2 linked regions of the Homo sapiens genome follow. The protein of the gene in region 1 purifies or fractionates together with the protein of each later gene. This does not show direct contact. Each region holds a gene or a part of one and is shown on either strand. Other genes may lie near its edges.

Region 1 (4,639 bases):
TGTTAATTGACATCATGTTCTGAAGACTTTCCCTACTCAATCTTGCTCCCTCTCCCCTTCATCTTTTTGTTTTGAATTTTTATTTTATTTTATTTTTTTCAGAGACAAGGTTTTGCTGTATTGCCTACTACACTGGAGTGCAGTAGTGCCATCATAGCTTACTGCAACCTCGAACTTCCGGGCTCAAGAGACCCCCCTGCCTCAGCCTCCCAAGTAGCTGGGACTACAGGGACACACCACCATCCCTGGCTAATTTTCTTTTTGTGTAGAGTCGGGGTCTCTCTATGCCGTCCATGATGGACTCAAACCCCTGAGCTCACATGATCCTCCTCCCTCGCTCAGCCTCCCCAAGTGCTGAGATTTACAGGTGTGAGCCACTGCGCCTGGCTCCCCTTTATCTTTCACAGGCATTTCCCAATAAATTTATTTCCTTTCTAATTCCTGTTGATAAATGCTTCATGGAGCACCCAAACTGGCATAGTTTATGATTTCTGATGTTCTATTCTATTTCGTTACTGTGAAAGGAGACCTGGTTTTCCATCACATTCTCCCCTAAGTGAGAACTCTGGGGAAGACACACTGACTGCTAGATTTTGCTTAGGATGTGCAAGCAACGTATGTCTGTCAGGCTTTGTCTAATCTGTGTTCTAGAATAAGGGGAGCTTATTCGAGAATGTCAACTTTCAAGATTGGACGTTTTTACTTTCTCTAAAGTACTTCATTTTAGAGAAATGAAGTATTTTTTTTTTCTTAAAATAAAATTATCTGGTGTTTTCCCTAAGGGCAAATGCCAGGAGCATATGCTCTATATGTTTTGCCTCGGGTGGGGTTGGGGTTAAATCCAGGGAGCATACACCCCGGGTTGAGGGCCAGGCGTATGCTCTCTGGAAGGTTATGTTTTATTTGAAGCCATTGTTAGAAATACAGCATTCTCATGAATTGTCTCCTTTTAACCTCTCTTCTCATTCTTGTCCTCCTTTTCACCTAAGCCCTAAGTGAGCCTGATGCTCTGTGGTTACAATCCCACCCTTGGACAATGCCCGCCATCAAGTATTCCTTGTTGTCACTTGTCATCCTCATCCTACACTCTTTCTATCACAGAAATGTCCTGGGACCTTTCACGCATTTATGACCTCCCCACGCTCCATGCCATTCTTCTCCTTGACATTGTATGTTTGTTTCAATGTTTACTTCAGAGAGGTCTTGGGGGCTATGGACTTCAATTCCATTAGCCACATCACAATTTTCAACAAGAATCTCCTGACTGAAATGTACTGAAATGGAAGAGAAAGTCCTCTCACCAGAATTGAGGAATGTCAAGGCTGGAAGGTATCTTAGAGATCATCTAATCCAGTTCTTGCTTCAGAAACGATTCAGGGAAGCAAGTGAAGTGACTTGGACTTTACCTATGGTAATACTCTCTCCCCACCCTCAACACTGCCCAGCTGGCATTTCTGTAGCCCCAACACCTCCCCCACACTGTGCCTTGGTGAGTGTTCACCAAGGAACGCTGCATTTTGATAAGCCTCAGTAATCAAGAGCAGCCTCTGCCCATAAATACACCTGCCCTGCTCCTGCCTGGGGTGATTCCCTCCGACTTGCGTCTGCTTCTCGCCAGCAGCCCCAGCATTATGCAGAGACTTGTGCTGCTATTAGCCATTTCTCTTCTACTCTATCAAGATCTTCCAGGTAAAAAGGGACTCTCAGCTGGAAATATACACAGTTGCTGGGGATGACAGGGGGAGAAGAAAAACATTTGATTTAGAAAATAAATCCTGAAGGATGGAGTAACCTTCTTCAATCTCAGCCTTTTTTCTCTTTGCTTTCATTGGGTCCATTAGTAAAATGCAGTATGTGGCAGTCCTTGTATGCACCTTACAGCCACGAGGCTTACTAGCTCAAGGAGGAAAAAAGAAACGTAGGGATCAGGAGTCCTAGATGTCCTTGGCACCCTGGCCACACACGGTAACAATTCCTCATGGAATCCTCAGCAATGAGGACTCACTAGCCATGCTTGTTCCATTGCAGGGCAACAGCAATTATTCATTGTTGATTTTGTAGAATAAGATGCCTTCCCCCATCCTCCTCCTTCTGAACAGCTTTACTCTGCACAGAAAAGGGCGCCTACTCATCCTCCTAAATTTTGCAACTTTTCATATCAAGTCAGATGATTAGGGTTAAAGGGGATGCAGTGATTTCAGTAGGCAAGAACGTAATTTACTGACAACACAAATAGCAGGTGCCTTTGAACTCTGCTCAGGAAATTTTAGACTGAGATGTCAGCAATCTTCTGACTCCTACGTTAATCTATGTCCCCAGAAGCATGTATTTCTTAATATATTTGCAATGGATATGAGAGAGCACCTAATCTAATTCCCTTCTTTTACAAGCTGAGCAGCATTCTCTATGGTACAGTGAGAGAAAATAAGATTTTTAGAGTTGCTTAACAAGTCTAGCAGTGCTGGGACGAAACCAATTGTTTTGACTCGTAGAAGCCATCGGATCTTCTCTTCCAAGCTGCTCAGTCAATTTTATGGGGCTTTGACAGACACCCAGCACCCATCTTTTTGCCCTTCCGGGCTGTGCCTCCACTGTGATTCAGATGGGTTAATGATTTTTTTTCAGAGGGTACCTGTTTAGGTTAACTCTTCCTTTTTCTTTCTTCCCGTGTCATTTCCCAAAGACACTTCTGTGAAATTCTGCTATGGGCATGTTCCAGGTCTGTTAAAATATGATAGCAATTTATCAAAGAACAGGTTTTCTTCAACCTTTGATCCCAAGACAAAGAACTTGGGATGGAAAGCCTGGGTCAGGGATCCCTCCAGATCCCGAAGAATGCACCGCAGAGCTGGCTGCCATTATCCACACTTGGCTGCAGAGGGCTGGGTCAGACTGTCCTCTGCAGTTGAATTCTGAGAAAGACCATTAGCAGGAAGAGGATTAGGGAGGGAAGTGGCAGAAGTGGGTGAGGGTGAATGACATGCGCTGCCTGCCTCTTCTCCTGCCACCCCTGCTTTGGGTAAGTTTGGCTGTCACACACTGTCAGCCCCTCAGATACCCACAGGGACTGGGGATGGGTGCTGTCAACCAAAAATAAAATTCTAAGCCCCCTCCCCAACCATCTAAATGGACTCCCTCCTCAGCCAGGGCTCTTAAAATTTAATCTGAAAGACTGCTTCAGGCCATGAAAGGAAGTGGGGGTTGGACATGCCTCATTACACTTTCCATCATGAACATCAACACAGACTTTAAGTGTGATAAGAAACATTTTACAGCCTGTTCTCTCTGAAGCCTGCTAGCTAAAAGCATCAACTGCATGATACAACTTTGGCCTCCACAATACAACCTCTTGTCGCAACCCAAACATTCCTGTCTATTGATCCCAGGTCTTTAGACAAACTCAATCAATTGTCAACCAGAAAATGTTTAAATTTACCTATAGCCTGGAAGGCCACCTGCCACACACTCCCACTGCACCCCCACAGGCCCCCCGCCACCCCCACTTTGAATAGTCCCACCTTTCTGGACCAAACCAATGTAAATCAGCCAGGTGTAGCGGCTCACACCTGTAATCTCAGCATTTTGGGAGGCTGAGGTCTGCAGATCACTTGAGGTCAGGAGTTCGAGACTGGCCTGGCCAACACGGTGAAACCTCGTCTCTACTAAAAATACAAAAATTAGCTGGGTGTGGTGGTGCATGTCTGTAATTCCAGCTGCTCAGGAGGCGGAGGCAGGAGAATCGCTTGAACCCAAGAGGTGGAGGTTGCAGTGAGCTGAGATCGTGCCATTGCACTCTACCCTAGGCGACAGAGCAAGACTCTGTCTCAAAAAAAACCAAAAAAACAAACAAAAAAAAAAACAAAGCAAATCTTACACGTCTTGATTGATGTATTATGTCTCCCTAAAATGTATAAAACCAAGCAAGCTGTATCACAACCACCTTGGGCACATGTCCTCAGGACCTCCTGAGGTTGTGTCACAGGTGTGTCCTCAACCTTGACAAAATAAACTTTCTACATTAACTAAGACCTGAGACCTGCCTAAGATTTTCTGGGTCTGTAGAGCAGAGGAGGAAAATTGCTTATGCAAGAAAGAAACTAGTGTAGTGTAGTCTACCCTGGAATGTATTTATTGCTTAGGAAATGTTTATTACTCAGCCTTAGTGTATGGACTGCATTCTCCCTTTTGCATTCTGTTTACTGAGACTGTAAGACATACCAACTAGGTTTTTCTTCCAGCTTTGACACATAAGTTGCTGTGTGACGTCAGATTAGTCACTTTCCTTCTCTGAGCCTTCATTCCCATCTCTAAATAGATGGCCTGTGAGGGCTTGTTTGAAACTGACAGTCTAACATTTTAAAGGTTGTGTTCTCTTCCTAGTCTATTCTTCTTCTCCCCTAACGCTAAGCTTCGTTTTCCCTGAGCAAGCATGCTGTCCTCTTTTTCCTCCTCTAACTCCAGGTTGTAAAGCGACCTGCCACAGATATGTCAGAAGGCACATATCTGCTACTCAACCTCCACATACTCCCTCAGCATGATACACACTGCAGCCCACCTCACTCCTTTCTTCATTGCCTTGTACTGTGACCACAAGGGCTTGCTTTTGAATGAAGCCTACAGCAAAACAGTCTTTCCTCAT
Region 2 (3,500 bases), on another chromosome or scaffold:
AAGCTGAGATCTCGTATGTTAAGATACAACTTAGAATAAATTTTCATGTTTTGAATTACTTTCCTCTTAAAGCTGCTATGAACTAATTTTTTGAAGTGGGGGTCTCCTGTGGGTATTGCTCACTTTAGCTGTGACTGGGGGAAAGGTGCAGAGTAGCCTTTTGTGGAACTGAGTGAAGGAAATGTGGGGCCACTTGGGAAGCTGTTTCTGTAAGAACAGTGACATTCCCTCTAGGAATTACTTTGAAAAAGTTGAATTTCTTGCATTTGAAGACGCTGAAGAAACATGTACGGAATGCCCACTGTATAAGAGGCACCAGGCTAGGCTTTGGCAGTAGAACATAGGTAACACAGACTTCTCTTCTCTTGGGGTTTGCATTCTGGTAGGGGAGCTTGAGAATATGCCAGTAAACAAATACATACCCTTAAGTAGCCTTAATTGCTACAGTTGGGGAGCGGAGGGACAGTGTAGCTCTGAGTGGTCAAGGATGACCTCTGAGCAGAGAGCCAAGTGGTAAGAAGGAGCTAGCCATGCAAAGATCCAGGGAGGGGAATTCTGGGCTGCAGGAACAGCAGGTCCAGAGACCCTACAGTGGGGAATTAATTTGGATCAGTTGAGGAGCTATCAGGCCAGTGTGGTTAGACCAGAGGGAGTGAGGGGGAGAGGAGGGGATGGATTTAGAGATTGATGGAGGTGCTCTGGAAAGGTACTCGTTGACCACGCTGAGGATTTCCTTCTACTAGAAATGAGAAACCAGGGTAGATCTTGGCTGCAGTGTTACTTGATTGATTTTTTGAAAGACCTCTCAGGCCTCTGCGTGGAGATGATATAGGAAGGCAGGAATGGATGAAAGAAGCCCAGTTAGGAGGCAGTGGTAATGGTGGCTTGGACCAGTGTGTTTTCTATGAAGACAGGTGGTGGACTTGGAATTGACTTTCAAGCTTGAGTGTTCAGCCTCTGGACTATGGGCTCTGGCAAAGTAGCATTCTCAGCCTGCTCCTCTTAAACATTTGTTTGACCACATTCCTGAAAAATGTGGCTGCTGAGAGCTTAGGCTGGGAGTATTTACAGTTTGAGAGATGGGAGAGAGGCAGGGACTGGGACCGCCCCAGGTAAGTGGAAATGAGTTCTTGCCATTGGAGTCAGGTTCCAGATTCCAGAGACAGGGGAGAAGAAATGGATGGCAAACTTTGGGGGCTCCCTACTCCAGGTATGAGGTGTGTAGGTCCTCGGCTTCCACCCTACAGAAATCTGAGAGCATCTACAATCTTGGCAGAGTGGCTTTGGGAGTCAGATCAACCCAGTTGGCTCTGTCCCTTATTCACTCAGGGTCCTCAGGTAAGTCTTAGTCCCGTGTCCTCGTTTGCAAAGTGGAGCTAATGATCATGCTTAATGCCGAAGGTGGTGTGGCTGTGGAGACCCCCTCACTGTCACTGACAAATAGGAGCTGTCAGCAGCCCAGGTGCCACACAATGATGGTGACTGTGAGGAGGCCCCCCACAGCCCTTTCCTTTGCTATTGTCTGTGGACATTAAAGCTACTGGTCCCCAAGTAACTGCCATTAAAAATGACCTCCAGATGGCCGAGTGCAGTGGCTCACTCCTGTAGTCCCAGGACTTTGGGAGGCCAAGGAGGGTGGATCGCTTAAATCCAGAAGTTCATGACCAGCCTGGGCAACATGGTGAAACCCCGTCTCTAGAAAAAATACAACAATTAGCAGGGCACAGCGGCTCATGCCTGTAGTCCAGCCACTCGGGAGGCTGAGGTGGGAGATCACTTGAGCCTGGAAGGCAGAGGCTGCAGTGAGAAGATCACACCACTGACAGAGCAAGACTCTGTCTCAAAAAAAAAAAAAAAAAAAAAAAAAAAGAAGGACCTCCTCCTGAAACTCAACACTGGTAAATCAGAGCTTTCCCTTATCACCTTCAGCAAAGTGAGAAGGTCCACTTCTGAAAGCTAAAAAAAACTTCCTTGAAAATTTCAAGCAGTTCAAGTCTGAAAATGGTGGTGATGATTGTTTAAGCCAGATATAAGCAAACTTTTTCAGCTAAGGGCCAGAGAGTAAATGTTTTTCAGTTTTGCAGGCCACAGGTCTCTGCTGCAGCTACTTAATTCTGCCTTGTAGCACAAAAGCCACCATAGACAATACACAGCTGAGAGGATGTGATAGTATTTCAATTAAAACTTTGTTTGCAGAAACAGGCGATGGGTCTGATATGGTCCACAATCTGTCATTTGCCAACCCCTGGTTTACACAGAAATCTGCATGTGCCTGTTGATTAGTAAAGGACGTGAGTGACCTGAAGGTAAAACAAGCAAATCCCACATCAGTCAATGATCCTTCAGGTCTTGCTTCACTTCCATTCACCCTGTCCTTTGCCCTGTCTGCCTCCTCCAGTATGGTATTTATTTTTTAATGAAATCGCCATCATTTTAATGTTAGTGATTTATTTTAAGGACTTTGTGTGTACATTTGCTTTAAATCTGTTACACATTTATTTTTTCTTCATATTAAGGAAAAACAATTACTTTAATCAATACCTGGTCTCTGAAAAGAGTGATAATGTGTAAAGTTACACACTGTTATATTTTTATGAGTATCTCCAAACAGCTTGTTTAAATCCCTTTGGTGTTTCATAACATATTTTTAAGTCCTGTGAGTAGTGGCTTTAATATATTATCTCCCAGGGAAGAAGAAGAAGGGAATCCTTCTATAGAAGAAGTGGCAAACCCAGACACCTACAGAAACCAGTTAATACTAATGAGAAACAAGGACCAGGTGTTAGACATTAGGGAGTGGTAAGGACTGCAGCAAATTAAAGAGCACATGACTTTTCTAAAGAGGGCCATCTCACTCAGCTCCAACAGATTACTGCCAGTGAGAATGCCTAGTGAGCCAGAAATCCAGGTTTTTGTGCAGAACCCCCCAACTTTTAAGTAAGCTCAAATTTTTAAAACAATTTCTGCTTTTTAAAAATGTAGGCCAAACTAAACCCATCCCTGGGCCAGGTAGGAACCGCGGGTGGTCAACCTCTACTGTAGTGTTGATTGCTAGAGTTGCAACTTCCTGAGAAGCCTTTCAGAAGGCTTGAAGGCCTAGGTGTACTCCCTCCCTTTCACCAGGCTTTTTTCTAGCGTTTCTTTAGTGCAAAGCCCTCAGCTGGATGTCTGCTACATGGAAATCCAGCATGTGGTCCCATCCTGAGGAGCCACAGCGTGAGCCCAGAAGCCAACTGATGCAATGAAATGTTCTTGGGGGTACTATGCAGTACAGCATACCCTACAAAAACATTTCAGAGTGGGCATCATCTACAAATTCATCATTTGGTGCTGGGATTTTCCATTTTTGTTTCCTTAAATTAGGGAAACTCTTTTTTCAGGTTGAATCTTGCTCAGAAACTCAGTATGTGAACACTCATTGCTGAAGGTTTACTGACTGCATCTTCTGGCTCAGCCCTGAGTCAGGTGCTAAGGGGACATTCCACTTCAGGGGTCGGCAT

What was found.
Region 2: the proteins of DEFB104A (region 1) and PTPRG purify together in Homo sapiens (affinity purification with mass spectrometry, with the first as the bait; one large-scale study listed by BioGRID). This does not show direct contact.

What each region holds. Positions count from the first base shown.
Region 1 is NC_000008.11:7,834,854-7,839,492, forward strand, and holds the start of DEFB104A (beta-defensin 104 precursor), read left to right. Parts: upstream 1-1,582; 5' UTR 1,583-1,631; coding exon 1,632-1,689; intron 1,690-4,639. UniProt on the Homo sapiens protein: Has antimicrobial activity. Synergistic effects with lysozyme and DEFB103.
Region 2 is NC_000003.12:62,205,071-62,208,570, forward strand, and holds part of PTPRG (receptor-type tyrosine-protein phosphatase gamma isoform 1 precursor), read left to right. Parts: intron 1-3,500.